3 separate regions of the Homo sapiens genome follow, and all the other regions are linked to region 2. The links come from fine-mapping of genetic effects on gene expression. A gene starts in region 2. Each other region holds a variant in brackets. All regions are shown on one strand. Distances are between the middles of the regions.

Evidence for each region. PIP is the estimated chance that this variant, and not a neighbour inherited with it, causes the effect.
Region 1: its variant is fine-mapped to the expression of SCARF1 in whole blood (TOPMed, PIP 0.99).
Region 3: its variant is fine-mapped to the expression of SCARF1 in whole blood (TOPMed, PIP 0.99).

What each region holds. Positions count from the first base shown.
Region 1 is chr17:1,687,228-1,697,445 of GRCh38, reverse strand. No RefSeq gene overlaps it. Among named protein-coding and RNA genes, the nearest start is that of PRPF8, 7.5 kb to the right of the region's middle. RefSeq lists enhancers at 6,349-6,849, 6,850-7,350. The variant T/G (reference allele first, on the strand shown) is at 6,174.
Region 2 is chr17:1,639,733-1,649,950 of GRCh38, reverse strand. It overlaps SCARF1 (scavenger receptor class F member 1), which reads left to right and starts at 4,219. Exons shown (of 11, transcript NM_003693.4): 1 at 4,219-4,354; 2 at 4,712-4,773; 3 at 5,016-5,117; 4 at 5,984-6,509; 5 at 9,285-9,503; 6 at 9,911-10,039; 7 at 10,209-10,218. The coding sequence starts at 4,254. It overlaps RILP (Rab interacting lysosomal protein), which reads left to right and starts at 85. Exons shown (of 8, transcript NM_031430.3): 1 at 85-374; 2 at 446-539; 3 at 645-751; 4 at 907-1,152; 5 at 1,456-1,601; 6 at 1,994-2,116; 7 at 2,962-3,045; 8 at 3,332-3,801. The coding sequence starts at 147. The coding sequence ends at 3,509. RefSeq lists a silencer at 482-776.
Region 3 is chr17:1,584,396-1,594,613 of GRCh38, reverse strand. It overlaps SLC43A2 (solute carrier family 43 member 2), which reads left to right. Exons shown (of 14, transcript NM_152346.3): 6 at 1,335-1,427; 7 at 2,915-3,048; 8 at 3,143-3,345; 9 at 3,666-3,812; 10 at 8,563-8,701. Among named protein-coding and RNA genes, the nearest start is that of PITPNA, 27 kb to the right of the region's middle. RefSeq lists enhancers at 3,520-4,065, 4,066-4,611, 6,253-6,799, 6,800-7,346, 7,347-7,892 and 4 more and a silencer at 2,587-2,752. The variant T/G (reference allele first, on the strand shown) is at 5,395.

The DNA.
Region 1 (10,218 bases), 47 kb before region 2:
CCCAGCACTTTTGGGAGGCCGAGATGGGTGGACTGCCTGAGCTCAGGAGTTTGAGACCAGCCTGGGCAACATGGTAAAACCTCGTCTCTACTAAAATACAAAAAATAAAATAAAATAAAATAAAATAAAATAAAATAAAATAAAATAAAATAAAATAAAATTAGCTGGGCGTGATGGCAGGCTCCTGTAGTCCCAGCTACTCGGGAGGCTGAGGCAGGAGAATTGCTTGAACCCAGGAGGCGGAGATTGCAGTGAGCCGAGATCGTGCCACTGCACTCCAGTCTGGCAGACAGAATGAGACTCCATCTCAAAAAAAAAAAAAAAAAAAGCCAGGCACAGTGGTACACATCTACAGTCCTAGCTACTCAGGAGGCTCAGGTGGGAGGTCACTCAGCCTCCTGGAGTTGGAGGCTACAGTAAGTCATGATTGTGTCCTGCACTCCAGCCTGGGCAACAGTGGAGTCTGGAGTCTGTCTGTAAAAAAAATTAAAAAGATAAAATAAAATACCATTTCAAATACAATTACAATACTTGTTTTTAAAAAAAATTTTACAAAATGACAAGTGAAACTGTCAATTTTTTTTTCTTTTTTTTTTTTTTTGAGACGGAGTCTCGCTCTGTCGCCCAGGCTGGAGGGCAGTGGTGCGATCTCGGCTCACTGCAAGCTCCGTCTCCCGGATTCACACCATTCTCCTGTCTCAGCCTCCCGAGTAGCTGGGACTACAGGCGCCTGCCACCACGCCCAGCTAATTTTTTGTACATTTAGTAGAGACGGGGTTTCACCATGTTAGCCAGGATGGTCTCGATCTCCTGACCTCGTGATCTACCCGCTTCGGCCTCCCAAAGTGCTGGGATTACAGGCGTGAGCCACCGTGCCTGGCCCCACGCCTGGCTAACTTTTTTTGTATTTTTAGTGGAGACGGGGTTTCACCGTGTTAACCAGAATGGTCTCGATCTCCTGACCTCATGATCTGCGCGCCTCGGCCTCCAAAAGTGCTGGGATTACAGGCGTGAACCACCGCGCCCGGCCCAATTTTATGATTTAAGGAAGATGTGCCAATTTACTCTGTGGCTCCAAGTATCACTGGGACAGTTCATTTTTCTTTATTCTCTGTCTTTTTTTTGTTTGTTTTTTTGAGATGGAGTTTTGCTCTTGTTGCCCAGGCTGGAGCACAATGGTGCGATCTTGGCTCACTACAACCTCTGCCTCCTGTGTTCAAGCGATTCTCCTGCCTCAGCCTCCCGAGTAGCTGGGATTACAGGCACCTGCCACCATGCCCGGCTGTTTTTTATATTTTTAGTACAGACTAGGTTTCACCATATTGGCCAGGCAGGTCTTGAACTGGTCTCAAGTGATCTGCCCGCCTTGGCCTCCTAAATTGCTGGGATTACAGGCGTGAGCTACCGCACCCAGACTTTATTCTCTTTTTTTTTTTTTTTTTTGAGACGGAGTTTCGCTCTTGTTGCCCAGGCTGGAGCGCAATGGCGCTATTTTGGCTCACGGCAACCTCCGCCTCCCAGGTTCAAGCAATTCTTCTGCCTCAGCCTTCCGAGTAGTTGGGATTACAGGCACCAGCCACCATGCCCGGCTAATTTTTTGTGTTTTTAGTAGAGACGGGGTTTCAGCATGGCCAGGCTGGTCTTGAACTTCTGACCTCAGGTGATGCGCCCACCTCGGTCTTCCAGAGTGCTGGGATTACAGGTGTGAGCCACCTCGCCCAGCTGACTTTATTCTCTTTATAACAAATATTTATAAAGGGCCTACGACATGCCAAGCACAAACTATGAGGTGTAATAGTGAGTCAATGAACCAGAGCCCTGGCATCAGAGAGCCTGCACTCAGGACTGTGTTAGAGAGTGAGGAACTGAGAAAGTAGGAGTCATTCGGCAGAGGGAAACCAGGGGTGACAGATACAGAAACAGGTCATCCTTGGCCGGGTGCGTTGGCTCACGCCTATAATCCTAGCACTTTGGGAGGCCGAGGCAGACGGATCACTTGAGGTCAGAGGTTCAAGACCAGCCTGGTCAACATGGGGAAACCCTGTCTCTACTAAAATTACAAAAATTAGCCAGATGTGGTGGTATGCACCTGTAATCCCAGCTACTCAGGAGGCTGAGGTGGGAGAATCGCTTGAACCCAGGAGGCAGAGGTTGCAGTAAGCCAAGATTGCACCACTGCACTCCAACCTGGGTGACAGAGTGAGATCCTGTCTCTCAAAAAAAAAGGAAAAGAAAAAGAAACTGAAGAAACAGGTCATTCAAGTACCTGTAGCCTGAGAATGAGCAGATGAATCTAGAGGATGGGATGGTTGCATTCTGACATCCAAAGGGTTCTCCAGAACCCGACTCAGGCGCTTTCCTTCCAAACCTGCATCCAGTCCACTCAGTCTGTGCATGACCCTGCCATCGACGCACTGTGCAAATCGGGAACTGAGGAGTCGTCCCTGAACAATGCCACCCACCTCCCACCACAGATGCACACTTCCAGTTATTGCAGGACGGCTTTCCCACCCATCCATCCTTTCCATCTCCGCTGTCCCATCTGGTCCGAGTCACCATCATCTCTAGTCTAAGCGACATAATAATGGCTGGCCGGGCAGGGTGGCTCATGCCTGTAATCCCAGCACTTTGGGAGGCCAAGGCGGGCGGATCACGAGGTCAAGAGATCGAGACCATCCTGGCTAACACGGTGAAACCATGTCTCTACTAAAAATACAAAAAATTAGCTGGGCGTGGTGGCGGGCGCCTGTAGTCCCAGCTACTCGGGAGGCTGAGGCAGGAGAATGGCATGAACCTGGGAGGCGGAGCTTGCAGTGAGCAGAGATCGCACCACTGTACTCCAGCCTGAGCGACAGAGTGAGACTCTGTCTCAAAAAATAAATAAATAAAATAATAATAATAATAGTAATGATAATAATAATAATAATAATGGCCTCGTAACTATTCTCCACAGAACAGCCAGTCTGTGATTGTCACGATGCAAATCTGATCATGTCATTCCCAGTAGCTCTTCCTACTTCTTAAGAAAGAAGCATAACTCATCACATGGTCTGTGGCCTTCCAAGGGCTCCCCTCTTGTCCACTCACCAGACTCAGGGTACTTCCTATTTCATTCTTTTTTTTTTTTTTTTTTTGAGACAGAGTCTCACTCTGTTGCCCAGGTTGGAGTGCAGTGGTGTGATCTCAGCTCACTGCAGCCTCTGCCTCCTGGGTTCAAGCAATTCTCCTGCCTCAGCCTCCTGGGTAGCTGGGATTACAGGCACCTCCCACCACACCTGGCTAATTTTTGTATTTTTAGTAGAGATCAGGTTTCACCATGTTGGCCGGGCTGGTCTCGAACTCCCAACCTCAGATGATCTGCCCACCTCTGCCTCCCAAAGTGCTGGGATTACAGGCATGAGCCACTGTGTCCGGCCCACTCTTGTTTTTTGAGACGGGGTTGTGCTCTGTCACTCAGGCTGAATTGCAGTGGTGCGACCTCGGCTCACTACAACCTCTGCCTCTCAGGTTCAAGCGATCCTCCCACCTCAGCCTCCTGGGTAGCTGGAACTACAAGTGCACACCACACGCCCAGCTGATTTTTTTTCTTTGTATTTTTAGTAAAGATGGGGTTCTGCCATGCGGACCCGGCTGGTCTTCAACTCCAGGACTCAAGTGATCTGCCCACCTTGGCCTCCCAATGTGTTGGGATTACAGGCGTGAGCCACCACACCCAGCCCGTTTCAGTCTCTGTGGCCTTAGTTCATTTATTAAATACACCATGCTCCTTCCTTATTCAGAAATCTATTCCTATTTCATTGCCCAGCGCCTGGTAGGCTTTCCTTCTCCCTCACTTCCATCTTCCTGGCTTCCCTCCTCCTACTCACTCCCTTTGTCTTACACATTCTCATTTTGCAGTGCTTATTTACAACATCTCCTCTTTTTTTTTTGAGACGAAGTCTCACTCTGTCACCAGGCTGGAATGCAGTGGTGTGATCTCAGCTCACCGCAACCTCTTCCTCCTGGGTTCATGCGATTTACTGCCTCAGCCTCCCTAGTAGCTGGGATTACAGGCACCCGCCACCACGCCTGGCTAATTTAGTGTTTTTAGTAGAGACAGGGGTTTCACCACGTTGGCCGGGATGGTCTCGAACTCCTGACCTTTTGATCTGCCCACCTCAGCCTCCTAAAGTGCTGGGATTACAGGCATGAGCCACTGCACCCGGCCTTTTTTTTTTTCAAATTCAGACAGGATCTCATTCTGTTGCCCAGGCTGGAGTGTAGTCTCCAGTACAATCTTGGCTCACTGCAGCCTCCACTTGCTGGGCTCCAGCCATCCTTCCACCTCAGGCCTGAGTAGCGGGGACTACAGGCGTGAGACACCATACCTGGCAAATTTTTGTATTTTTTGTGTTGAGGTTTCGTCATGTTGCCCAGGCTGGTCTTGAACTCTTGACCTCAAGTGATCCTCCTGCCTTCGTCTCCCAAAGTGCTGGGATTACAGGAGTGACCCACGGCAACATCTCTTTTCCCAAAAAAACTTCTATGACTCTTTTCATAAAATCAGGTGAGATCTCTGGACTTCTCATTGGAAGCACTTACTATAATTTTAATTGAAGAGCCAATTATGGACATTTAAAGGAAGCCCCTAACATGAAATAAACTTTTTTAAAAGAAGATGAAGAAAAAGAAAAACACGGATAAAGCAAACAGTATGCCTGGAGAATAAAACTTCAGAAAAGCTATTTTCCTTATAGAGACAAGAGAGTATGTTGTAGCCATGAAACAAGAACATGATCCTACAAAAGAAGAACTAAAAAGAGGTGGGTGCGGTGGCTCACGTCTGTCATCCCAGCACTTCAGGAGGCCGAGGCGGGTGGATCATGAGGTCAGGAGTTCAAGACCCTCCTGGCCAACATGGTGAAACCCCGTCTCTACTAAAAATACAAACAATAGCTGGACGTGGTGGCAGGCGCCTGTAACCCCCAGCTACTCGGGAGGCCGAGGCAGGAGAATCGCTTGAACCCAAGAGGCGGAGGTTGTGGTGAGCCGAGATTGCGCCACTGCACTCCAGCCTGGGCGACAGAGCAAGACTCCGTTTTTTTTAAAAAAAAAAAAACTAAGAAAGAGTACTTAGTATTTGGAAATGAAAAGTGTGACACTTGATGGAAATGAAAAGTTCATGGAGGAGTTGGAAGAAAGTCTCCCGGAAAGAAGAGTAATGATGGGGATAGAATTAGAAAAGATGAGACAATCGTGGGACCAGTCCAAAAGACCCAACATCAAAATAACGGAAGATCCAGAAAGAGCAAACTGAGAAAAGAAAAAAATGAAAATCGTCAATTAAATAATGAGATATGGCCGGGTGTGGTGGCATGCGCCTGTAATCCCAGCCACTCAGGAGGCTGAGGCAGGAGAATAAAGTCCAACTCATCAAGCTTCTCTCTCTTTTTTTTTTTCATTTTTTCCTGAGATGGAGTTTCGCTCTTGTTGCCCAGGCTGGATTGCAATTGCATGATCCCAGCTACTCTCCAGAGTCTGAGGTAGAAGAAGCACTTGAACCCCAGAGGCAGAGGTTGCAGTGAACCCAGATCGCGCCATTGCACTCCAGCCTGGGCAACAGAGCGAGACTCCATCTCAAAAAAAAAAAAAAAAAAAAAAAAAAGTCCAGGCGCCGTGGCCCACATCTGTAATTCCAGCACTTTGGGAGGCCAAGGGGGACAAATCACAATGTCAGGAGTTCAAGACCAGCCTGGCCAACATGGTGAAACCCCATTTCTATTAAAAAGACAAAAAATAGCTGGGCTTGTGATGGCAGGAACCTATAATCCCAGCTGCTTGGGAGACTGAGGCAGGAGAATCGCTTGAACCCGGAAGGCAGAGGTTGCAGTGAGCCGAGATTGTGCCATTGCACTCCATGCACTAACTCCAGCCTGGGCGACAGGGCGAAACTCCATCTCAAAAAAAAAAAAAAAAAAAAAAAAGGCCGGGCGCGGTGGCTCACGCCTGTAATCCCAGCACTTTGGGAGGCCTAGGCGGGTGGATCATGAGGTCAGGAGATCGAGACCATCCTGGCTAACACGGTGAAACCCAGTCTCTACTAAAAATACAAAAAAAAAATTAGCTGGGCATGATGGCGGGTGCCTGTAGTCCCAGCTACTCGGGAGGCTGAGGCAGAAGAATGGCGTGAACCC[T/G]GGAGGCAGAGCTTGCAGTGAGCTGGGATCACACCACTGCACTCCAGCCTGGGCGACAGGGCGAGACTCCATCTCAAAAAAAAAAAAAAGAATGGGTAAAGGATCTGAATACATATTTATCCAAAGACGATATACATGCCATAACAATATAACAAGTATGAACCTCAAAAACATCATAAAACATCATGCTGGCCAGGCTTAGTGACATGCACCTGCAGTCTTAGCTATTCTAGAGGCTGAAGTGGGAGGACCCTTTGAGCCCAGGAGTTTGAGGTTATAGTGAGCTATGATAGCACCAATGTACTTGAGCCTGGATGACAGAGTGAGACCTTCATTTCTAAAAAACAAATAACAACAACAACATCAACCACAAAACCATTATGCCAAGTAAAAGCAGACAACCACACACAAAAAAATTCATTATTCTATCATACCATTTATATAAAATGTTGAGAACAGGTGAATCTATAGAGATGGAAAACAGAAAAGTAGTTGCCTAGGGCTGAGGAATAGGAGGTAGGAGGAAATGGGGGAGCGAATGTGTAGAAGATTTCTTTGCTCTCTCCCTCTCCCTCTCCCTCTCCCTCTCCCTCTCCCTCTCCCTCCTCTCCCTCTCCCTCTCCCCACGGTCTCCCTCTCCCTCTCTTTCCACGGTCTCCCTCTCCCTCTCTTTCCACAGTCTCCCTCTCATGCTGAGCCGAAGCTGGACTGTACTGCTGCCATCTCGGCTCACTGCAACCTCCCTGCCTGACTCTCCTGACTCAGCCTGCCGAGTGCCTGCGATTGCAGACTCGCGCCGCCACGCCTGACTGGTTTTGGTGGAGACGGGGTTTCGCTGTGTTGGCCAGGCCGGTCTCCAGCCCCTAACCGCACGTGATCCACCAGCCTCGGCCTCCTGAGGTGCCGGGATTGCAGATGGAGTCTCCTTCACTCAGTGCTCAATGGTGCCCAGGCTGGAGTGCAGTAGCGTGATCTCGGCCCGCTACAACCTCCACCTCCCAGCCGCCTGCCTTGGCCTCCCAAAGTGCCGAGATTGCAGCCTCTGCCCGGCCGCCACCCCGTCTGGGAAGTGAGGAGCATCTCTGCCTGGCCGCCCATCATCTGGGATGTGAGGAGCCCCTCTGCCTGGCTGCCCAGTCTGGAAAGTGAGGAGTGTCTCCGCCCGGCCGCCATCCCACCTAGGAAGTGAGGAGCACCTCTGCCCGGCCGCCATCACATCTGGGATGTGAGGAGCGCCTCTGCCCGGCCGCGACCCCGTCTGGGATGTGAGGAGCACCTCTGCCCGGCCGCCCCGTCTGAGAAGTGAGGAGCCCCTCCGCCTGGCAGCCGCCCCGTCTGGGAAGTGAGGAGCCCCTCCGCCCGGCAGCCGCCCCCTCTGGGAAGTGAGGAGCGTCTCCGCCCGGCAGCCGCCCCATCCGGGAGGGAGGTGGGGGGGTCAGCCCCCCGCCCCACCAGCCGCCCCATCCGGGAGGGAGGTGGGGGGGTCAGCCCCCTGCCCGGCCAGCCGCCCATCCGGGAGGGAGGTAGGGGGGTCAGCCCCCCGCCAGGCCAGCCGCCCCGTCCGGGAGGGAGGTCGGGGCATCAGCCCCCCGCCCGGCCAGCCGCCCCATCCAGGAGGGAGGTGGGGGGGTCAGTCCCCCGCCCGGCCAGCTGCCCCGTCCAGGAGGTGAGGGGCGCCTCTGCCCGGCCGCCCCTACTGGGAAGTGAGGAGCCCCTCTGCCCGGCCAGCCGCCCCATCCGGGAGGGAGGTGGGGGGGTCAGCCCCTCGCCTGGCCAGCCGCCCCGTCCGGGAGGGAGATGGGTGGGGGGGTCAGCCCCCCGCCCGGCCAGCCGCCCCGTCCGGGAGGTGAGGGGCGCCTCTGCCCGGCCGCCCCTACTGGGAAGCGAGGAGCCCCTCTGCCCGGCCAGCCGCCCCGTCCGGGATGGAGGTGGGGGGGTCAGCCCCCCGCCCGGCCAGCCGCCCCATCCGGGAGGTGAGGGGCGCCTCTGCCCGGCCGCCCCTACTGGGAAGCGAGGAGCCTCTCTGCCCGGCCAGCCGCCCCATCTGGGAGAGAGGTGGGGGGGTCAGCCCCCCGCCCGGCCAGCCCCCCCATCCGGGAAGTGAGGGGCGCCTCTGCCCGGCCGCCCCTACTGGGAAGTGAGGAGCCCCTCTGCCCGGCCACCACCCCGTCTGGGAGGTGTGCCCAACAGCTCATTGAGAACGGGCCAGGATGACAATGGCGGCTTTGTGGAATAGAAAGGCAGGAAAGGTGGGGAAAAGATTGAGAAATCGGATGGTTGCCCTGTCTGTGTAGAAGGAGGTAGACATGGGAGACTTTTCATTTTGTTCTGTACTAAGAAAAATTCTTCTGCCTTGGGATCCTGTTGATCTGTGACCTTACCTCCAACCCTGTGCTCTCTGAAACGTGTGCTGTGTCCACTCAGGGTTGAATGGATTAAGGGCGGTGCAAGATGTGCTTTGTTAAACAGATGCTTGAAGGCAGCATGCTCGTTAAGAGTCATCACCACTCCCTAATCTCAGGTACCCAGGGACACAGACGCTGCGGAAGGCCGCAGGGTCCTCTGCCTAGGAAAACCAGAGACCTTTGTTCACTTGTTTATCTGCTGACCTTCCCTCCACTGTTGTCCTATGACCCTGCCAAGTCCCCCTCTGTGAGAAACACCCAAGAATTATCAATAAAAAATAAATAAATAAATAAATAAATAAATAAAAAAGATTTCTTTGGGGGGTGCTGGGAATGTTCTGGAACTCAATAGTGGTAACTGCACAAGTCTGTAAATATACTAATTTTGAATCATTAAAACTAAAATTCATTAACAATCATTGAATTATACACATGAAAACAAGCGAACTTTATGGATTGCGATTTTTTTTTTTTTTTTTTTGAGGCAGAGTTTCGCTCTTGTTGCCCAGGCTGGAGTGCAATGGCGCGATCTCAGCTCACTGCAACCTCTGCCTCCAGATGCAAGCGATTCTTACATCTCAGCCTCCCAAGTAGCTGGGATTACAGGCATGCACCACCATGCCCCGCCAATTTTTGTATTTTTAGTAGAGACAGAGTTTCACCATGTTGCTTCGTCTGGTCTCGAACTCCTGACCTCAGGTGATCCGCCCGCCTCGACTTCCCAATGTGCTGGGATTACAGGCATGAGCCAGCATGGTGGCCATGGAGTGCAACTTTTATCTCAATAATGCTGTTTTGAAAATAGTACAGAGAGTTCTTGTGTACCCTTCACGTAGCTTGAGAACTTTTTATTTTATTTTATTTTTGAGCGAGAGTCTCACTCGGTCACCCAAGCTGGAGTGCAATAGCATGATCTCAGCTCACTACAACCTCCACCTCCGGGTGCAAGCGATTCTTATGCCTCAGCCTCCCAAGTAACTAGGATTACAGGCATGTGCCACCATGCCCCACTAATTTTTGTATTTTAGTAGAGACAGGTTTTCACCATGTTGGCTAGGCTGGTCTCGAATTCCTGACCTCAAATGATCCACCTGCCTCAGCCTCCCAAAGTGCTGGGATTACAGGCGTGAGCCACCACACCTGCCCCCTGCCCACCCCCCAGAACTTGTTTTTTTTTTTTTTTTTGGAGACGGAGTCTTGCTCTGTCACCCAGGCTGGAGTGCAGTGGCCCGATCTTGGCTTACTGCAACCTCTGCCTACCGGGTTCACACCATTCTCCTGCCTCAGCCTCCCGAGTAGCTGGGACTACAGGCGCCTGCCACCATGCCCGGCTAATTTTTTTGTATTTTTAGTAGAGATGGGGTTTCACCGTGTTAGCCAGGATGGTCTCGATCTCCTGACCTCGTGATCCACCCTCCTCAGCCTCCCAAAGTGCTGGGATTACAGGCGTGAACCACCGCGCCCGGCCACCCCCCAGAACTTCTTATACAACCATAGAGCGACAATCAAACCAGGAAATTGACATTGGTACAATACTCTTTTTTTCTTTTTTGAGACGGAGTCTTGCTCTTTTGCCCAGGCTGGAGTGCAGTGACTATCTCAGCTCACTACAACCTCTACCTCCTGGGTTCAAGCGATTC
Region 2 (10,218 bases):
TCTCCCTTCCTCGTTCCTCCCTACCCTTATCGCTTCTACCCCGCCCACACCGCCCTAAACGGCTTCCTGGGGCGGAACTGTTTCGCTTTTCCCCGTCCCAGTGGAGGGTGGGGTGGGGGGGTCGCAGCCCTAAGCCTCTGGGAGACATGGAGCCCAGGAGGGCGGCGCCCGGGGTGCCTGGCTGGGGGTCTCGGGAGGCCGCGGGGTCGGCATCGGCCGCGGAGCTTGTGTACCATCTAGCCGGGGCCCTGGGCACTGAGCTGCAGGATCTGGCGCGCCGTTTCGGGCCGGAGGCGGCGGCCGGGCTGGTGCCGCTAGTGGTGCGGGCGCTGGAGCTCTTGGAACAGGCTGCCGTGGGGCCCGCCCCGGACTCGGTGAGTCATGGCCCTCCCTTCGCCACCCACGGGGCCGGCAGGGCCGAAGCCTGAGACCCGGGTCTCCCCAGCTGCAGGTGTCGGCGCAGCCGGCGGAGCAGGAGCTGCGGCGGCTGCGGGAGGAGAACGAGCGCCTCCGCAGGGAGCTGCGCGCGGGGCCACAGGGTAAGCGCAGCCCCGGCCAGGGCAGGGCGGGTGACGACCTGCTCGGGTCCTCCCCTCCCTCCCGCGGGCCGCGCGCCGCCGCCGCTAAGAACGCCCCTTCCTCAGAGGAGCGCGCGCTGCTGCGGCAGCTCAAGGAGGTCACGGACCGACAGCGGGACGAACTCCGGGCGCACAACCGCGACCTGCGGCAGCGCGGCCAGGAGACCGAGGCGGTGAGGGCGGGGCGGGGCTCTGGGGCGGGGCGGGGGCGGAGCGTGGCAGGCGCTGGGCGGGGCTCCGGGGGCGGGGGCGGAGCGAGGCAGGCGCTGGGCGGGGCTCCGGGGGGCCCTCGGTGCCCCGCCCACCCCACCCTTTGCTCCGCTCCCAGTTGCAGGAGCAGCTGCAGCGCCTCCTGCTGGTGAACGCTGAGCTGCGGCACAAGCTGGCGGCCATGCAGACCCAGCTGCGCGCCGCGCAGGACCGCGAGAGGGAGCGCCAGCAGCCTGGCGAAGCCGCGACTCCGCAGGCTAAAGAGCGAGCGCGGGGGCAGGCCGGGCGGCCCGGGCACCAGCACGGACAGGAGCCCGAATGGGCGACCGCCGGCGCAGGCGCCCCAGGGAACCCTGAGGACCCGGTGAGTGCCGTATGAGGGCAAGGACCCAGCCCAGGACGCAGCGTCCAGCCCTCGGTGGGCACTCAAGCAAGGTTTGCATGCTGCACAGCAGGTCGGCCAGGAAGCGGGGAGGTGGCAGACAGATCTGCGCCCCCGGCCGGCCTCGGCCCCCGCTCTCAGCTGGAGCACTGCTCTGTTATCTGTTAGGGCACCCTTGTCCCCCAAGTCTCCCGGCCCGTCACTTCCTCTAGCATTCCCATGATGGCCCTGGGGCGGGGGAACGCCAGCCGAGGCGACCCTCTGACTGTGCCTGTCCTTCCAAAGGCGGAGGCCGCGCAGCAGCTCGGGCGCCCCTCGGAGGCAGGGCAGTGCCGCTTCAGTCGGGAGGAGTTTGAGCAGATCCTTCAGGAGCGGAATGAACTCAAAGCCAAAGTGTTCCTGCTCAAGGAGGAACTGGCCTACTTCCAGCGGTGAGGACGCTGGGAAGCCGGGGGGCCTCCGATCACCCCACCTCATTCTCCAGTCATTGACATGTCCACAGTGACATGTGCCAGGCCTGCGCTGGGAACTGGGAGGACATGAATTGTACAGCCCTTGCCCTCCTGCAATGTCATCCAGACAGGGGAGAGGGACAGTACAAAGGGTTGCAGCTGCAGCAGCCAGGGAATCTCTCCTAGGAGGGGGCCACGGGGCCACCTAATTTAAGGTCTGAGGGTGTCAGCAAGGCAGAGCGCTTCCCGTGTTCAGGGAAGAGCTGCGTGCACAGGTACCAGGAGTGAGGACTGCGGCTGGCATCTCCACTGCTGGCATCCCCATGGCTGGCATCACCAGGGCTTTCTCCCTCCCTGCCCCTTTTCTTTAGGGAGCTGCTCACAGACCACCGGGTCCCCGGCCTTCTGCTCGAGGCCATGAAGGTGGCTGTCCGGAAGCAGCGGAAGAAGATCAAGGCCAAGATGTTAGGGACACCAGAGGAAGCAGAGAGCAGGTAGGTCCCTGCCTGCATTCCCACGGAGCCAGGCCTCCCTCCCTCATTCTGCTGAGCCTGATGACCCAGCCTGGTCACCCTCTGAGCCCATTGTCTCAGACTGAGGCTGTCACCCCAACCCGGTCACCCCTTGAGCCTCCCTAGCCTGGCCGCTTCTAGGGCCTGCTGACCTGCTCTGGCTGTGTCCCATGGCCGCTGTCCAGCCTGCGCCCTTCTCCCTGGATCTCACCACTCCCCTTGCCTTGCCTGCCATCCATTCTGCCTGACAACACTGCCTCTCCACATTCATTCTTCAAGTTCCTGTCTTGGCTGGGTCTGTTTATTCTTACGGGGGTGAAACTGTAGCCGCGGCTGTGTCAGGGCCTGCTGTGTGTCAAGCTATAAAATAAACCCTTGGCAGGGCGCGGTGGCTCACGCCTGTAATCCCAGCACTTTGAGAGGCTAAGGTGGGTAGATCACCTGAGGTCAGGAGTTCGAGACCAGCGTGGCCAACATGGTGAAACTCCGTCTCTACTAAAAATACAAAAATTAGCCGGGCATGGTGGCATGTGCCTATAATCCCAGCTACTCAGGAGGCTGCGGCAGGAGAATCGCTTGAACTTGGGAGGCGGAGGTTGCAGTGAGCTGAGATCGCACCACTGCACTCCAGCCTGGGCGACAGAGTGAGACCCTGTCTCAAAAAAAAAAAAATTAAAAATTAAAGGCTCGACATCCTGCATCTCCCCAGGGTTGCCTTCTCTCCAGCCCCGGGGGCCCTGCAGTCCCTCCATCCCCCCTGCTGGATTCCTGTTGTCCCTCAGGGCCTTGATCAATGGCCCTCACTTCTCCTCTCTCCTCTGTCTCAGTGAGGATGAGGCTGGCCCATGGATCCTGCTCTCCGATGACAAGGGAGACCATCCCCCACCCCCGGAGTCCAAAATACAGAGTTTGTATGTTGGGGAAAGGGGAAAGGCAAGAGTGTGGGGAGGGAGGAAGGGCCCTGGCTGGTCCTTCTCAGGATCCCCTTTCCCGCTTCTCTGCCCGTCACCCTGCTGTGCTTGGCTCTAAGCACACCGTCCCCTCCTGCTTCTCTGGCCCTGGCCCCCATCACCTTCACACTCCCTCAGGCTGCCCTTTCTTCCCCCTCTCCCCTTTTCTCACCATCCCCTGCCCTCACCCATATCCTTGACCTCTCTGGCTTCCTGGCTCAAAGTGCCTCTGGCTGTCTCTCTCCAGCTTTGGCCTATGGTATCGGGGTAAAGCTGAATCCTCTGAGGATGAGACCAGCAGCCCTGCACCCAGCAAGCTAGGGGGAGAAGAGGAGGCCCAACCACAGTCTCCAGCTCCTGATCCGCCCTGTTCTGCCCTCCACGAACACCTTTGTCTGGGGGCCTCAGCCGCCCCAGAGGCCTGACTTAGGGGTCTGGCTGTGGAAGGATGTGTGGCCTCAAATGAGGACAGGGCTCCCGCCTTCACAGCCCTCGCCAGGGGTCTGCCCCAATCCTGGCCTGCATCAGGGCAGGACGGGGTCTCAGCCCGCCTCCCTCTCTACGTCTCTGTACCGAGCCTCTGGGGCCAGATATAAGAGTGCCTCTCTGAGTCTCAGTTTCCCCATCCATGAAATGAGAGCTGACTGCCTAGCTCCCAGGGCTTTGTGCAGACGGCCTGAGCTCATGTAATAAAGAACTGCCCGTAATACACAGAAACTGTTCCTCGCCTGTCTGTCCATGTCTGTGCCACCTCCCAACCCTGCCAGGAGCAGAGGCAGGCTGAGGGGTCCTCGCTGGTCTCCTTGCTCAGTCACTGGGTGGGGTGGCTTCTTGCAGCTCAGGCCTTGCTTTGGGAGTGTGGCCTGATGGAAAGCCGTGGCTCCCAGCCTCAGTCCACCCCCTTCCCTGGCCCCGGCACCCAGGGACCTGCAACTTCATTCTTCTGGCCCTTCCAGGCCCAGGCCAGTCAGCCCTGCCATTGCCTTTCTTTCCCTTTCTTTTTTTGAGTGTCAGTCTTTCCAGCCACCCCCTCCCTCTCAGGGAGGTGCCTCGTGGCAGCCCGCCCCTCCGGCCTGGTTTCCTCAGGAAAAGCCCTGAGAGGAAGCAGGGAGGGGGTTGGGAGCTGTGGGGGCCAGACGAACCCGAGCGCTCCCACCGAGCTGCCTGCCATGGGGCTGGGGCTGCTGCTCCCGCTGCTGCTGCTCTGGACTCGGGGGACTCAGGGGTCCGAGCTGGACCCCAAAGGGCAGCACGTCTGTGTGGCCAGCAGGTGGGTCTCGTGGGAGTCTGATGCGTGTGGCCAGCAGGTGGGTCTCGTGGGAGTCTGATGCGGGTGGCTGAACCGGTGTTGAGGCCGTTAGGGGAAGGAGGAGACTAGGAAGGGGGCTTAGGCTGAAAGGAAGGGACTGCTGATGGCGGTCTGGCAGGTAGTGGCCAGCCAGGGCAGATGGTGGAAGGGTCAGGGAAGGAGAGGGGAGGGGCTGGGGACCCTAGCTGTAAAGATCCATTAGGCCTCCCCAGGGGGCTAAGGCAGCCTCCCCCACTGCAGCCAGAGACAGTGATCCACCTTCCTCAGGGCCAGGCTGCACCCCCCACCATGTCCGGCTGACCCCTTTTTGCCCCACAGCCCCTCTGCTGAGCTGCAGTGCTGCGCAGGCTGGAGGCAGAAGGATCAAGAATGCACCATCCGTGAGTAGCCAGGACAGACCCTCAGCCAAGGAGAAGGGAGGCCGTAGCCCAGTGACAACCCTTCCTTCCTACCCCATGGGGCCTGCCCCTCCTGATACCAGGAGTCAGGGTTTCTCCTGTGACGCACCCCCAGGCCTGAAGGGGCACCTCTTGAGGAGGCATGGCCCCTGGAGCCAGTGAGAGGGCAGGGGTGTCCCCTGGTCCTGCTCCCGTCTTTCCAACCTGGGTGGGGTGTCTTTCAGCCATCTGTGAGGGGCCGGACGCCTGCCAGAAAGACGAGGTGTGTGTGAAGCCGGGCCTCTGTCGATGCAAGCCTGGATTCTTTGGGGCCCACTGCAGCTCCCGTGAGTCTCAAGGGCCAGATGAAGTTGCTGGGCAGAGCTGGGTACGGGGGCAGTGGTGTGGGAGCAGGCGAGGCAGGTAGCCATGCAGCCTCAGGACAGCAGGGCCAGAATCCCCCCCAGCTTCACTGAGGAATTGCGGTCCAGAGACAGGAAGTGACACACACTCCCGGGAGATGACCTGAGTCACCGGGTTTTTACCCACATCCACAAAGCACTGCCCACCTGAGCATCTTCCTCTTCCACTTCTCAGAAAACCTGTGATTCCCCTTCATTGTAAAATGAGTGTATTACTTGCCTTTCCCACATATACCTTATACATGGGCAGTGGATGGAAGGGGGCCCCTGGCTGGGCTCTCTGCCCTCTCTGGCAGAAAGAGAGGGAAGGGAAAGGGGTTGGGAAGCAGGAGAGCCAGAGGGTGGGCATCAGGAATCAAGGAATCACTAGGGGAAAGGTGGCTTCTCCCGACACCCTGGCGGGCAGTATCCAGGCCTGAGATCAGGAGAAAGCCAGCTCTCCTCCAGCCCAGCAGAGATCCATCTCGGCAGGGAGGAGCAGGCATGGAGGAAGGCCCACCAACCTCGGTGCCACGCTCTGGGCAAGTCCCCTGCCCACTCAGGATCTCTGAGTGTGTTCTGGAATGTGAAGTGGCAGGCTGAGCCTCCCACTAATGGCTAAGGGTTTTCTGTAGGTCAGAGCGGAGCAGGAAGTGAGTGTTGCCCAGGACAGGCTGCCGGATGTTCTGAGGGTCTGTCCCCGGCTCTTGGAGGATGGGCCCAGCGCCCCTTTTCCTTGAGGAAGGGGACGCAGGGTAAGGGTCTGCGCGCGGCCCTGAGCCCGCTGACCCCTCCCGTCCCCACCCCCGCAGGCTGCCCGGGCCAGTACTGGGGCCCCGACTGCCGTGAGAGCTGCCCCTGCCACCCGCACGGCCAGTGCGAGCCAGCCACGGGCGCGTGCCAGTGCCAGGCCGACCGCTGGGGAGCCCGCTGCGAGTTCCCGTGCGCCTGCGGCCCCCACGGGCGCTGCGACCCCGCGACCGGCGTGTGCCACTGCGAACCCGGCTGGTGGTCGTCCACGTGCCGCCGCCCGTGCCAGTGCAACACCGCGGCGGCGCGCTGCGAGCAGGCCACGGGCGCCTGCGTGTGCAAGCCGGGCTGGTGGGGGCGCCGCTGCAGCTTCCGCTGCAACTGCCACGGCTCCCCGTGCGAGCAGGACTCCGGCCGCTGCGCCTGCCGGCCGGGCTGGTGGGGTCCCGAATGCCAGCAGCAGTGCGAGTGTGTGCGGGGCCGCTGCAGCGCCGCCTCCGGCGAGTGCACCTGCCCGCCCGGCTTCCGCGGAGCGCGCTGCGAGCTGCCCTGCCCGGCAGGCAGCCACGGGGTGCAGTGCGCACACAGGTGAGCGGGCGGGGCGGGGACAGGTGGGCTGGCGGGGCGGGGGCGGACACAAGTGAGCAGGCGGGGCGGGGCGGAGACAGGGGGGCGGGGCGGAGACAGGGGGCGGGGCGAAGACAGGTGGGCGGGGCGGACACCGGTGGGCGGGGCGGACACCGGTGGGCGGGGCGGGCACCGGTGGGCGGGGCGGACACCGGTGGGCGGGGAGGGGGCGGGGTGGAAACTGGTGAGCGGGCAGGGTGGGGGCGGGGCGGGCACAGGTGAGCGGTCGGGGGAGGGGGCGGAGGCGGACACAGGTGAGCGAGGCTGCGCGGAGACCTGTGAGCGGGCGGGGCGGAGCGGAGACAGGTGGCCGCGGCGGGGCGCCGGGAGGAGGGGTCAGGGCTTCGCGGTGCTCCTCTCAAAAAACATACAAAGCAGAGGAACGAGAAAGGGGAAAAGTCGGATAGGTGGGGTGGCTCACACCTGTAATCCCAGCACTTTGGGAGGCTGAGGCGGGTGCATCACCTGAGGTCAGGAGTTCGAGACCATCCTGGCCAACATGCTGAAACCTCGTCTCTACTAAAAACACAAAAATTAGCCGGGCTGCGCCTGTAGTCCCAGGTATTCGGTAGGCTGAGACAGGAGAATCGCTTGAGCCCTGGAGGCGGAGGTTGCAGTGAGCCGAGGTCGCACCACTGCACTCCAGCCTGGGCCAGAGAGCAAGACTCCGTCTCAAACAAAACAAAACAAAAACTTTTAAAAACGCTTTGTTGCCCCAGGTCCAGCCTCACCTGCTCATTTCATTGATTACTGCTGTGCAAAATATACTAGCACTGCTAGCAAGCCATATGTAGGTAATAAGTGGATCGAGTCCAACAATGATAGACTGGGTTAAGAAAATGTGGCACATATACACCATGGAATACTATGCAGCCATAAAAAATGATGAGTTCATGTCCTTTGTAGGGACATGGAAGAAATTGGAAATCATCATTCTCAGTAAACTATCGCGAGAACAAAAAACCAAACACCGCATATTCTCACTCATAGGTGGGAGTTGAACAATGGAATCACATGGACACAGGAAGGGGAATATCACACTCTGGGGACTGTTGTGGGGTGGGGGGAGGGGGGAGGGATAGCATTGGCAGATATACTTAATGCTAGATGACGAGCTAGTGGGTGCAGCACACCAACATGGCACATGTATACGTATGTAACTAACCTGCACAATGTGCACATGTACCCTAAAACTTAAAGTATAATAATAAAAAAATATATATAAATATATTTAAAAAAAGAAAATTAAAAAAATGGTTTCTTACAAAAAAAATAATAAATAAGTGGATCGAGTGACCAAGGGTCCTGAGCAAGGTCCCTTTAGGGCTCAGTGGCTTTCAAACTTTGACTGGCTGCACTCACAGTAAGAAATTTCATCCCTGGCTGGGCGCGGTGGCTCACGCCTGTAATCCCAGCACTTTGAGAGGCCGAGGCGGGCGGATCACCTGAGGTCAGGAGTTCGAGACCAGCCTGGCTAACATGGTGAAACCTCGTCTCTACTAAAAATACAAAAATTAGCCGGGCATGGTGTTGGGCGCCTGTAATCCCAGCTACTTGGGAGGCTGAGGCAGGAGAATCACTTGAACCCGGGAGGCGGAGGTTGCAGTGAGCCAAGATCGCGCCACTGCACGCCAGCCTGGGCGACAGAGTGAGACTCAGTCTTGAAGAAAATAATAATAAAATAAAATAAGAAATAAAAATGCTGGTCAGGATCAGCTAAATGGCTTTTATAAACTGCCCTTCTTCTCCCCTACTAATGGGTCTGACCCAAGTATATGATCCCAGCTAGTTAAGCATCTGAGGGAGAAACTTCAGGTAACTATTAGGCATCAATGGGAAATTAAGATATGGCAAATGTGAAATTATATTGGTGACAACAGTGGTCTCCAACCTTTTGGCACCAGGGACTGGTTTCATGGCAGACAATTTTTCTATTATTACACTGTAATCTATAATGAAATAATAATATGACTCACCATAATATAGAATCAGTGGGAGCCCTGAGCTTGCTTTCCCGCAGCTCGAGGGTCCCATCTGGGGGTGATGGGAGACAGTGACAGATCATCAGGCATTAGATCCTCGTAAAGAGCATGGAACCTGGACCCTCCCGTGCGCAGTTCACAATAGGACTGGCGCTCCTATGAGAATCTGAGGCCACCACTGATCTGGCTGGCAGCGGAGCTCAGGCGGTCAGGCTCCCCTGCTGGTCATCTCTACGCTGTCGCCCAGTTCCTAACATGCCACGGACTAGTACCAGTCCATGGCCCAGGGTTTGAGGACCCCTGGGTGAAAACACTTTACATTTTTTGCATTTCGTGTGATGGGGTAGAAGACACTACTGAGTCCCATTCATGCCAGACCTGGGGACGGCTCAGTGTGGAAAAAGGAAAAGTGAAAAGAGCAGGAGGGAAGGCCTGGCAGACCTCGCAAATGGGACTCAGAGCTTGGTGGTGACTCGCCTGCCCTGGCTGGGCTGCTGGCTCCTGATGGTCCTGGGACCCAGGGAAAGACGGTCACAGAGCAGATGCCTGGAAGGAAAGGGATGGGATCCTGTAAGAGCCCTCATTTGTCCTCATTGTACAACGTGGGGAAACTGAGGCTCAAACCTGCCTGACCCAGGTGGGACCCGAACACTCTCCAGGGCCCCCGAAGGCCTGCGTGGAGTACAGGGGTAGGAGGGGGTGGGCGCTCCATCCATCCACCCCCACTGTTCCCACGAAGCCCTTCTCTTCCCAGCTGTGGCCGCTGCAAACACAATGAGCCGTGCTCTCCAGACACAGGCAGCTGTGAGTCCTGCGAGCCGGGCTGGAACGGGACCCAGTGCCAGCAGCCCTGCCTGCCTGGCACCTTTGGCGAGAGCTGCGAACAGCAGTGCCCTCACTGCCGACATGGGGAGGCCTGTGAGCCAGATACTGGCCACTGTCAGCGCTGTGACCCTGGCTGGCTGGGGCCCAGGTGAGGGCACCATTCTGTTCAGGGTGGGGTACACCTTCCCCCAGGACCCTCAGCTCAGCGGCTCTCTCCGAGAGCACCACCCTCCCCGACACACAGGTTCATGCGGCCCCAGGGGCCTCCCTCCTGTTGAAGACTGGGGGAGAGCAGTGGGTTCTGGGGGGGCCTGGGCAGGATCCCAGCTCCCTCCCCTCTGAGGCTTCCTGCCCTCCTCGCCCTCTGGGGACTTGTAGTCTGTCACCTGCTGGATTTGGCCCCAAGTTCAAGGCCCTATTTGCACCTGAGCTTCACTGCTGAGGAGTGGCCAGTTGGGTCCTTGAGTCCAGGAGCGTGGGGCGGAGGGGTGGGGCCCCACAGTGGGGGCCAGGCCTGCCTTGGTCTCCCCTTCCCCGAGTCTTGCCTCACCCCAGGTGTGAAGACCCCTGCCCCACTGGTACCTTTGGGGAAGACTGTGGCTCTACCTGCCCCACCTGTGTTCAGGGGTCCTGTGATACTGTGACAGGGGACTGTGTCTGCAGTGCCGGCTACTGGGGGCCCAGGTAAGGATGGGGATCCCGGGGGCGGGAGAGTGCCAGGGGCCTAGGTCAGGGCTCTGTGCAGCATTTCCTGAACTTCCCTGGACAGTGCCCAGAAATCTCCCTGCCCGTCTCCTGCCTGCCTCCCCCACTTCACCCAGCCCTCAGCCTGCCTCTCCATGTCACTCCATAGCTGCAACGCC
Region 3 (10,218 bases), 55 kb after region 2:
TCCGTCTCAAAAAAAAAAAAAAAGAAAGAAAGAAAGAAAAAGATTCAAGACAAATGGGGAGTGGTGGGGAGGGTGGAGGGGACATAGATTAAGTCCCCATAAGCAGCCTGAATTTAATGAAATAGGTTGGCATGGCTATCCAGAGGGCAGCCCCCAAGGCCAGGGACGCTGGGTGTGGACAGGAAAGGTTTGCTACACACAGTGTGATGTCTCTTGAGGTTAGAGAACCTGTGCCTCTTTGGGAGGATGTAGTTTGCCCTAGGCCTGGATTTCGGTAGAATGAGCAAGAGTTAGCCTTGAAGTCCTGTTCAGGTGGGCCCCCTCTTGCCCTGTACCCAGAATGAGCTGATGTGAGATGCCGAGAGTGGCTTCGTTGGGAAGAGAGCCCGGACCTTGCTTCCCGTTGGCCTTCCAGGATGCTAACTGCTCGGGCCGAACATCCTGTGGGAAGATAATCCCCTGCTTGTACTGAGAAATTCAGAAGCAGGAGGCCGGGCGCGGTGGCTCACGCCTGTAGTCCCAGCACTTTGGGAGGCCGAGGCGGGCGGATCACTTGAGATCAGCCTGGCCAACATGGTGAAACCCCGTCTCTACTAAAAATACAAAAATTAGCCAGGCATGGTGGCGGGCATCTCTAATCTCGCGACTTGGGAGGCTGAGGCAGGAGAATCACTTGAACCAGGGAGGCGGAGGTTGCAACGAGCCGAGCTCACACCACTGCGCTCCAGCCTGGGGAACAAGAGCAAAACCCCATCTCAAAACAAAGAAAAGAAATTCAGAAGCAGGAATCCTGGGCCAGCTTCATCCTCAGACCGAAGAGAACTGTAGAATTCTGATTGACATCTTCCAAAAACCTACCCTCTCCAAACCAAAAGCAGTTTTTGCTGACATCTGGTCTTTCTGGAATGCTGATATTTTTATTTATAAAATGATGCTATTATCCCCAAATAGATTCTTATTTTTAACAGGCTTTCTCCCTTTGAGGGCTGCCTGAGGCTCATAACTTTGTTCTCTGGCATCTCAGTGTTACCCTGAAAAGACAAGAAGGCTCCTGGGCTCTGCCAGGAGCAGAGAGATAGGGAGGGTTGCCAGCCGGAAAGTCAGACAACTGCTTGTATTCTGCATTACCTCCCTCCTTGGCCCCATCAGCCTCAGTCCATGAAGGAGAAACCTTCAGTGAGCGGTCATTGCCCCTGAACTAATGCCCCTGTGAGTCACACAGGAAGGGGCGCAGGTGAAGAAGGGGCCTCATGGGGCCTAGTTCTCTGTCCCCTCCTCCTCCCCTTCCCTGGTGCATCCTCCCCACTGAGGTTTCTCTGCTTCTTATCTCTCAGCTGCCCAACATGTTCGGCGACCTTCGGTCCACGTTTATTGCCTTGATGATTGGGTCCTACGCCTCCTCGGCAGTCACCTTTCCAGGAATCAAGGTGAGCACGTGTATTTTGCACTGGTGTCTGTGCAGAGGCCTGCTCCAGGCTCCTTCCACCCTCTCTGAAGAGGGAGGCAATTGTGGGCACCCGGGGTGGCCCCTCTCCACCACCCCCACCCGGGCAGGATGCACCTGGGCATCACAGGGGCGACAAATGAAAACCGCGGGGCCTCAGGGGACGGGAATCACGCATGTGGCTGCAGGATCTGCCGCAGGTGCCTTTGCATTTCGGGGCTGGGGCAGGGGAAGGGCGGTGGGTGAGTCTGTTTCCAGTTGTGAGTCTTGCCCCCGTCTCCTCCGTCATCCTGGTCTCCCGCTGCTCCCCTGCTCCCCAACCCCCAGCCTGCTGTTATTGTACCGTTACTCCCCGCCAGCCAAAGCACTGCTCTTGGCCAAGTGTTTCAGCTGTTTCCCTCCTAGGCAGGATTTTGAGCCTGTGGAAGTCACACAGGGTCAGGACGAAGCAAACACCTCACAGTCCATCAGCCCAAGTTCCCCAGACCCTGTGGGTCTGCCAGGGCCCCGTAGGGGCTTCTCCCACCTCTGACCCTCACACTAAGTAAAAGCCCCTTTCCTCGGTGGTGTGTGTGGGAATGCTGTTGGCGAGGAGAGGGGGACACGGTGTGGGCTGGCCACCTGGGCATTGAAGTGGTGGGAGCTGGGACTCTGGGGCCAGCCATCCTATGGACTTGCAGAGATTCTCATGCCCCTGGACTGGGGAGCATCCCGAAAGTTCTTCCTCCTCCTTTTTTTGGGGGGGAACAGGGTCTTGCTCTGTCGCCCAGGTTGGAGTGCAGCAGCACGATCTCGGCTCACTGCAACCTCCACCTCCCAGGTTCAAGTGATTCTCCTGCCTCAGCCTCCCAAGGAGCTAGGATTACAGGTGCCCGCCACCATGCCCGGCTAATTTTTGTATTTTTAGTAGAGATGGGGTTTCACCATGTTGGTCAGGCTGGCCTGGAACTCCTGACCTCATGATCCGCCCACTTTGGCCTCCCAAAGTGCTGGGATTACAGGCGTGAGCCACCATGCCTGGCTTCCTTGAGCATTTCTTTGGCCTCTGCCATGTGAGCTCTCAGAGGCACTGGGGAAGCATCAGTGGACGGGGCTGGCCGGTTCCCGCCTTCAGGGAGCTCCGCTAATACCAGACAAGCCGACGGACCAGGAGCACCGTCCCCTCTGCTGGGCCGATCACTATGAGCCTGCAAGACGTGCCGTGGTCATGGCGGGGCGGTCAGGAAGGCCTCCGAGTCGGGGGGCTAATCACACGCCAGGCCCAGATGACCAGCAGGGCAGGCACGGTGGGAGGACTGGAAGGCGGGTGCCTGATGCCCCAACGCCCAGGCTGGCAGGGCTGTGCCTCTTTGCGCGGCTCAGCACAGGGACAGCAGGGGTGGCCAGACGCCCCTGCCTGCTGCGGCTCTGGCCTCCCCGGGCTAACTCTGCCCCCTCCCCCCCCCACCCCGTCCCCGCGGTGCCTGTCAGCTCATCTATGATGCTGGTGTCTCCTTCATCGTCGTCCTCGTGGTCTGGGCCGGCTGCTCCGGGCTGGTTTTCCTCAACTGCTTCTTTAACTGGCCCCTTGAGCCCTTCCCGGGGCCGGAGGACATGGACTACTCGTAAGTAGAGGTGCCCCCGTCCCGCCTGCCCCCAGCCCCCGCCCCCCAGCCGGGGTCCCGGGCAGCACCCACAGACACTCTCCCGGGGCCCCAGGGTGAAGATCAAGTTCAGCTGGCTGGGCTTTGACCACAAGATCACAGGGAAGCAGTTCTACAAGCAGGTGACCACGGTGGGCCGGCGCCTGAGTGTGGGCAGCTCCATGAGGAGTGCCAAGGAGCAGGTGGCGCTGCAGGAGGGCCACAAGCTGTGCCTGTCCACCGTCGACCTGGAGGTGAAGTGCCAGCCGGATGCCGCAGGTACCCGCCTGAGACCGCAGCCGGGCGACGGGCAGGGAGTGCTCTGTGGGTATCGGCTCACCCCATTCCCACCTCACCCCAAAAGGGGAGGCGGCCCCGCCCGCCCTGTTCTGCAGAGGCGCTCAGGAAGGCCTGGGGGAGGGAAAGGGATTTGCCTGATTTCACCCAAGAGGTGACCCCACCGCAGCGCCAACCCCGTTACCCTCACCAGGCCCGTCCCGAGGGCCCCCTCCTGGCCTCCAGCGTGGAGGGATCTGCGTGTCCCCCCGGTGGTGGGGACAGTGTGCCCCGGCCCTGAGCCCCGCACCCTCTCCCTGCAGTGGCCCCCTCCTTCATGCACAGCGTGTTCAGCCCCATCCTGCTGCTCAGCCTGGTCACCATGTGCGTCACGCAGCTGCGGCTCATCTTCTACATGGGGGCTATGAACAACATCCTCAAGTTCCTGGTCAGCGGCGACCAGAAGACAGGTAGGTGCCCCGGGCAGCCTCGGTCGCTGTCACTCCCCGGCCTGAGCCCAGCCCACTGGCCACCGGCCAGAATGTGTTAAGCTGAGCCGGGCCAGCCGGGCCATGGAAAGGCCGCATCCCAGGAGCTGTCTGCCCGTCAGAGCTATTGCATCACTGCCAGCCCCAACTGTTTCTTCGTGTCCCCATCAGGGTTTCCTGGTCCAGGAGGGAGGGAAGGACCAAAATAGCCTCCTGGGTGTGGGGTGTGGGGTGTGTGTTTTCCAGTGCCTGAGGGGGAGGGTTGCCGTGTGTGTCTGTAAATGAAAACAGAACAGAACGCTCCACCTGAGCATGGCTGAAAGACAGCAGGTCAAGCCCAAAGTCCTCCCAGAAAGTGGCACGGTGGGTGCGTGGACACCCTGGGCATCGAGGTCAGGACGGGGCTGGAGACGCTGGGGCAACTGGCCCACACTGGGATCTGCATCCCTCACCGAGAAACAGGGCAGGGCAGAGACTTCCTCGGAGCTTGCGAACAGTTGAGGCTTGTCAGCTCCAACAAACACAGCTGATAACCCACAGTCCACTTTTCCAAACAGGGCAGGTCTTCAGCTGATTAGAGGTTTTGATTCTACAGAGAAAGTCAGGACTTCCCCGGGGCCTGAGCTGAGTCAGCCTTAGTCATCCCCAGGCGGGACAAACACTCCAAATCCTTTTTATTGGCAGCCTCCCTGGTGTGCCACTTTTTCCGATGGTTTCCTTGTTTTTATCAAGGTGAAGATACCCTAGGACTTGTGAAGAATCAGTTATCAGGTTTTTAGGGGATGAGAAATCCAGCTTTATCAAAAGGAAAAGATAGCAAAGGGAACCAGATAACAGCCAGTTCTACTGTGAAAATGGTAGTCTAGGCCAGGCACGGTGGCTCACGCCTGTAATCCTAGCCCTTTTGGAGGCTGAGGCAGGTGGATCATGAGGTCAGGAGTTCAAGACCAGCCTGGCCAAGATTGTGAAACCCCCATCTCTACTAAAAATACAAAAAATTAGCCAGGCGTGGTGGTGGGCCCCTGTAATCCCTGCTACTTGGAAGGCTGAAGCAGAGAATTGCTTGAACCCAGGAGGTGGAGGTTGCAGTGAGCCGAGATTGCGCCACTGCACTCCAGCCTGGGCGACAGAGTGCGACTCCATCTCAAAAGAAAAAAAAATATCTGTGGAACACACTTTGGGGAACCCTAATCTATCATGTCTCTTTCTTTCTTGTTTTTTTGAGGCAGGGTCTCTTTCTGCGTTGCTTAGGCTGGAGTGCAGTGATGTGAACGCTGCAGCCTTGACCTCTTAGGGCTCCCCAGGTGCGCGCCACCACACCCAGCTAATTTTTAAATTCTTTGCAGAGATAGGGTCTTGCTGTGTTGCCCAGGTTGGTGTCGAACTCCTGGGCTCAAGGGATCCTCCCCTCTTGGCCTCCCAAAGTGCTGGGATTACAGGCGTAAACCTCCACACCCAGCCTGATAAACATTCAGCCCTGGAGTGGCGGAAACCCCAAAGTGTGCAGAGAGAGCTGGTCCCTGGCCCTCGAAAGGCTCATCTCCCTGCTGCTGAGTCAGCGTCT[T/G]TTACTCAAGCTGTCTGAGAAATCTTTTGCTGCCCAGGAGGAATGTTTCCAACTGTTTCGTATGTTCAAAAAGTCAATTTCAAGAAGTAGAGGAAGCCAGGCCAGGAAGGTTGGTCTGTGGCAGACGAGGCACTGGTTTTCCCCCTCCTCCTTCTGTGACCCGTTACACCCAACACCCATAGCCCTAGCTCCGGCCGAGAGGCAGCTGCAGGGTCCGGGTCACTTTCCGCACACTCGTGAGCTTTGCGGCTCCGCAGGAGGGGGTGTGCCGTGCTGCTGAGGAACGGCTCAAAGCACCAGAGCCATCGCCTCCGCGTACGGCCCCGCGACCACCCGCGGCAGAGGCTCCCGGGTGCTGGTTCCGAATGGAGACTCCAGGCCTTGCCGCTGACCGGTGACTCTGCTGCCTCCCAGCGTTTGAGACCCGCCATCAAACAGGAGTTGCGGATTCAGGGAAACCCTAACTAGCCAGGGTGCTGGCAGCTGGGAAAAGGCCGCCTTTTTTTTTTTTTTTTTTTTTTTGAGTTGGGGTCTTGCTCTGCCACCCAGGCTGGAGTGCAGTGGTGCAACTGATAGCTCACCACGGCCTCCGACTCCTGAGCTCAAGGGATCCTCCCACCTCGGCCTCCTAAGTATCTGGGACTACAGGTGTGTGCCACCATGCCTGGCTAATTTGTTTTTTTTTTTTTTCCATAAAGACAAGGTCTTGCTATTTTTCCCAGGCTGGTCTCAAACTCCTGGGCTCAAGCAGTTCTCCCACCTCAGCCTCCCAAAGTGCTGAGATTATAGGCATGAGCCACAATGCCCAGCCAAAAATACAGTCTTTTTTTTTTGACATGGATTTTCGCTCTTGTCACCCGGGCTGGAGCACAGTGGCATGAGCTCGGCTCACTGCAACCTCCGCCTCTCGGGTTCAAGCGATTGTTCTGCCTCAGCCTCCCAAGTAGCTGGGGTTACAGGCACCTGCCACCATGCCCAGCTAATTTTTGTATTTTTAGTAGAGACGGAGTTTCACCATGTCTCCAACTCCTGACTTCAAGTGATCCACGTGCCTCAGCCTCCCAAAGTGCTGAGATTACAGGCGTGAGCCACGATGCCCAGCCAAAAAGCCAGTCTTGAGATGGGGAAGACGTGGCCCATGCTGTCCTCAGCAGTGCCCAGTCCCAGCCAAAGTGGGCACTGCTGCCTCACTCTCCCACCCACCCTCAGGGTGTGGCACTTACTGGGAAGAAGCAGGCATTGAGAAACAGAATTAAGGGGGGAAAACAGTCCAGGGCCAACAGTGCTTGGGGATTGAGGCCTGAAAATGGGAGCAGGGTACAGAGGCTGTGGCTGGCCAGATGGGTCGGGTGCCCCCTGCACCCCCACCCCCTAGTCAGGGGCCACCTGTCCTACCCTCCCTTTGTAAGAGTTGACAGGTGACATGTTTTCCTATTGTTGTCCTTGACTTGATAACAATCTAGGAGTTAAATAGATACTATCATCTGTTTACGTCATCATTTATGATAGATACTATCATCATATACACCTGAAAAACGAGGCCTGGAGTGATGGAGGAGCTTGTTCAAGGTCAGAGCCAGCACTCACATATGGGTCTTAAGACACTGGAGCAGCCAAGGGCCTCTAGACCAGGACATTCCACTCGGAGCAGCAGCTCAGGGGCCACCAGGCCTCTGTGGCAGGGGGGCCATGGCCCAAGGAAGGGGAGCAGGCCCAGGCATGGTCCCCGTTTCTTGGAGTGGAAGGGAGACCAGCTCTGGCCATCTGGAGGAGACCCATGGTGTCAGATGCCTTGGCTGGGCATCAGGGGCAGGTTCTTTGACCTTTCCCTCTCTCTGAGCACAGCAGGAGGTAGATGTGACAGAGCCGCTTCCCGCAGGCAGTGTGGTGACAGGGACCCTGATTGCACCAGGTCTTCCGCATGCCCGCCACTTCCCCATCACGCTACCCGCCAACGTCACAGGCCTGATTCACCAGTCCGCCTGTGACCCGGCACCAGCAGACAGGAGAATGTCAGCAGGGGCCCGGGCTGGGCATTGTCCCAAGTCCACTTCCAGAGGCCTGGCTGCAGCTCTGCCTCCCCTGAGCGCCCCGAGTCACGCTTAGTGGGAAATGCAGTGCGGGAAACGCAGTGTGGGAAATGCAGTGCGTGCTGGGCATGGAGTGAGCCTGCCTCCTCTCCCATCTCTCTGTAGCACTGAGATTTCTGCCACTAACCTCTCTTCTTTCTGCTTTTTCACTTTTGCTTTCTTGATGCAGTGATGGCCACGGGTAAGCGGGGGGTGGGGGGGATTGTCAGGGAATGCTGTGATGTCCCCTCCCAGCCAGTCTCTGTTCAACCCAGAAGCTCCTCACCTCAAGCTCCAGACATGCCTCCTGGCTAGAGCCGTGGGGGTAAAACTGGGGCAATCAACATTCCTCGTCTGCTTCCCTGGAAAATCCACTGTCATTTTAAGTCTTTGAATATGGAAGCCCTGACATCAGAGCCCCGTGAGCGGTGCCTTTCTGGGATATTTCTTTTTTTTTTGAGATGGAGTCTTGCTCTGTTGCCCAGGGTGGAGTGCAGAGGCATGATCTTGGCTCACTGCAACCTTCACCTCCCGGGTTCAAGTGATTCTCCTTGTAGCCTCCTGAGTAGCTGGGGTTACAGGTGCCTGCCACCACGCCCAGCTAGTTTTTGTATTTTTAGTAGAGACGGGGTTTCACTGTGTTGGTCAGTCTGGTCTCGAACTCCTGACCTCGTGATCCGCCCACCTCGGGCTCCCAAAGTGCTGGGATTACAGGCATGAGCCACCGCGCCCAGCCGTTCTGGGCTATTTCTAGAGACAGAAACTAACGGCCCGTCACTTAGCCTCCGTCACAGGAGTTCCCAAGTTATAGCGACTTCCTGGAGCTCTGGGAAGGCCATTGTGACACTCTGGGTTTCATTAGCTGTTTCTTAGAAACAAGCAGGGGATTTGGAACCGAGAAGAAGGTGACCTGCCCCGTGCTCCATCCTCAACTTCAGAGTTAAGGTCTCCGGGCTCCTCGCAAGACCCATAGTGACAGGGGGTTCTGGGGCAGACCCCAGAAGAGCCTGTGGGGACCAGCCCCTTCCCAGCTGGTGCCCAGTCCCTGCTCCAGGGCTGTCTGCCAGGCGTCCCCATGACGCAGCGCCTTCCTCCACAGTTGGCCTCTACACCTCCATCTTCGGCGTGCTCCAGCTGCTGTGCCTGCTGACGGCCCCCGTCATTGGCTACATCATGGACTGGAGGCTGAAGGAGTGTGAAGACGCCTCCGAGGAGCCCGAGGAGAAAGACGCCAACCAGTGCGTAGGCAGGGCCGGTGCCCCGGCTCCCAGCCCGCAGCCCCTGCAGAAAGACCCCAGAGCTGCATGTCAGGCACAGGGTGGGTGGGACAGAGGGAGAGAGCAATGCACTCCAGCTGCTCCCGGAGCCCTTAGAGAGACTCACTCATTCAGCTCAGCATGCGTTTCAACTGCTCCCCTCTTTATGGAAATTGTTTGGAATGCAATGGAAATGCTAAAGTTTGAGGCCAGGTGCGGTGACTCATGCCTGTAATCCCAGCACTTTGAAAGGCTGGGGTAGGAAGATCACTTGAGGCCAGGAGTTGGAGACCAGCCTGGGAAACATGGCCAGCCCCCACTCCCCGTCTCTACAAAAAATTTAAAAATTGGCCAGGGAGGGTGGTTCATGCCTATAATACCAACACTTTGGAAGGTTGAGGTGAGTGAATTGCTTGAGCCCAGGAGTTAGTGACCAGCCTGGCCAATGTGGTAAAACCCGGTCTCTACTAAAAATACAAAAAATTAGCCAGGTGCGGTGGCGGCGCGCGCCTGTAATCCCAGCTACTCAGGAGGCTGAGGCGCGAGAATTGCTTGAACCCGGGAGGTGGAGGTTGCAGTGAGCCGAGATCACGCCATTGCACTTCCAGCCTGGGCAACAGAGCAAGACTGTCTCAAAAAGAAAAAACAATAAAGAAGAAGCATTGAGTAAGAAGGAAGAAAAAGAGACACAGGTGAAAGTGTACAGACAATGGCTAGCAGACCATTTTGCTCCTAAGACCACCCTCCCTCCACCCCTTGGCAGTGGCTACACCATCTTAAAGCCTCCCAAAGTACTGGGATTAACAGGTATGAGGCACCGCGCCCGGCTCAGATGGTGACTTTCATTCATTGCATTCAATCATGCAGCCCACCAACCCTTTGTTATCTGCCTGCAAGGTTTATTCCGGTCAGTTTGAGTAGTGAGTTGCTATAAACATATTATGTGTTAATAGAGTTGTTCATGATTGTGAAGATTAAACAAGGTACTGGAGTCCTACTTTATGTAAGGGATGGGCTCCAAGATCAGAGGATGAGTTAAACGCTGTTTTCTTTTTTCTTTTTCTTTTTTTTTTTTGAGACGGAGTCTCGCTCTGTCGCCCAGGCTGGAGTGCAGTGGCTCTATCTCGGCTCACTGCAACCTCCGCCTCCCGGGTTCACACCATTCTCCTGCCTCAGGCTTCCAAGTATCTGGGACTACAGGCGCCCGCCACCACGCCCGGCTAATTTTTTTAATATATATTTTTAGTAGAGACAGGGGTTTCACAGTGTTAGACAAGATGGTCTTGATCTCCTGATCTTGTGATCCGCTTGCCTCGGCCTCCCAGAGTGCTGGGATTACAGGCATAAGCCACCACGCCCAGCCAAACGCTGTTTTCCATGGCTCCACACCTTAATATAATAAGCTACGGTTTATTGCCTGAGGCCCTCCACCGAGGACTCCATGCACAGTATCTCAGTGAAGACTCCCAGCACCCTGGCGAAGTGGGGACCAGTGTTAT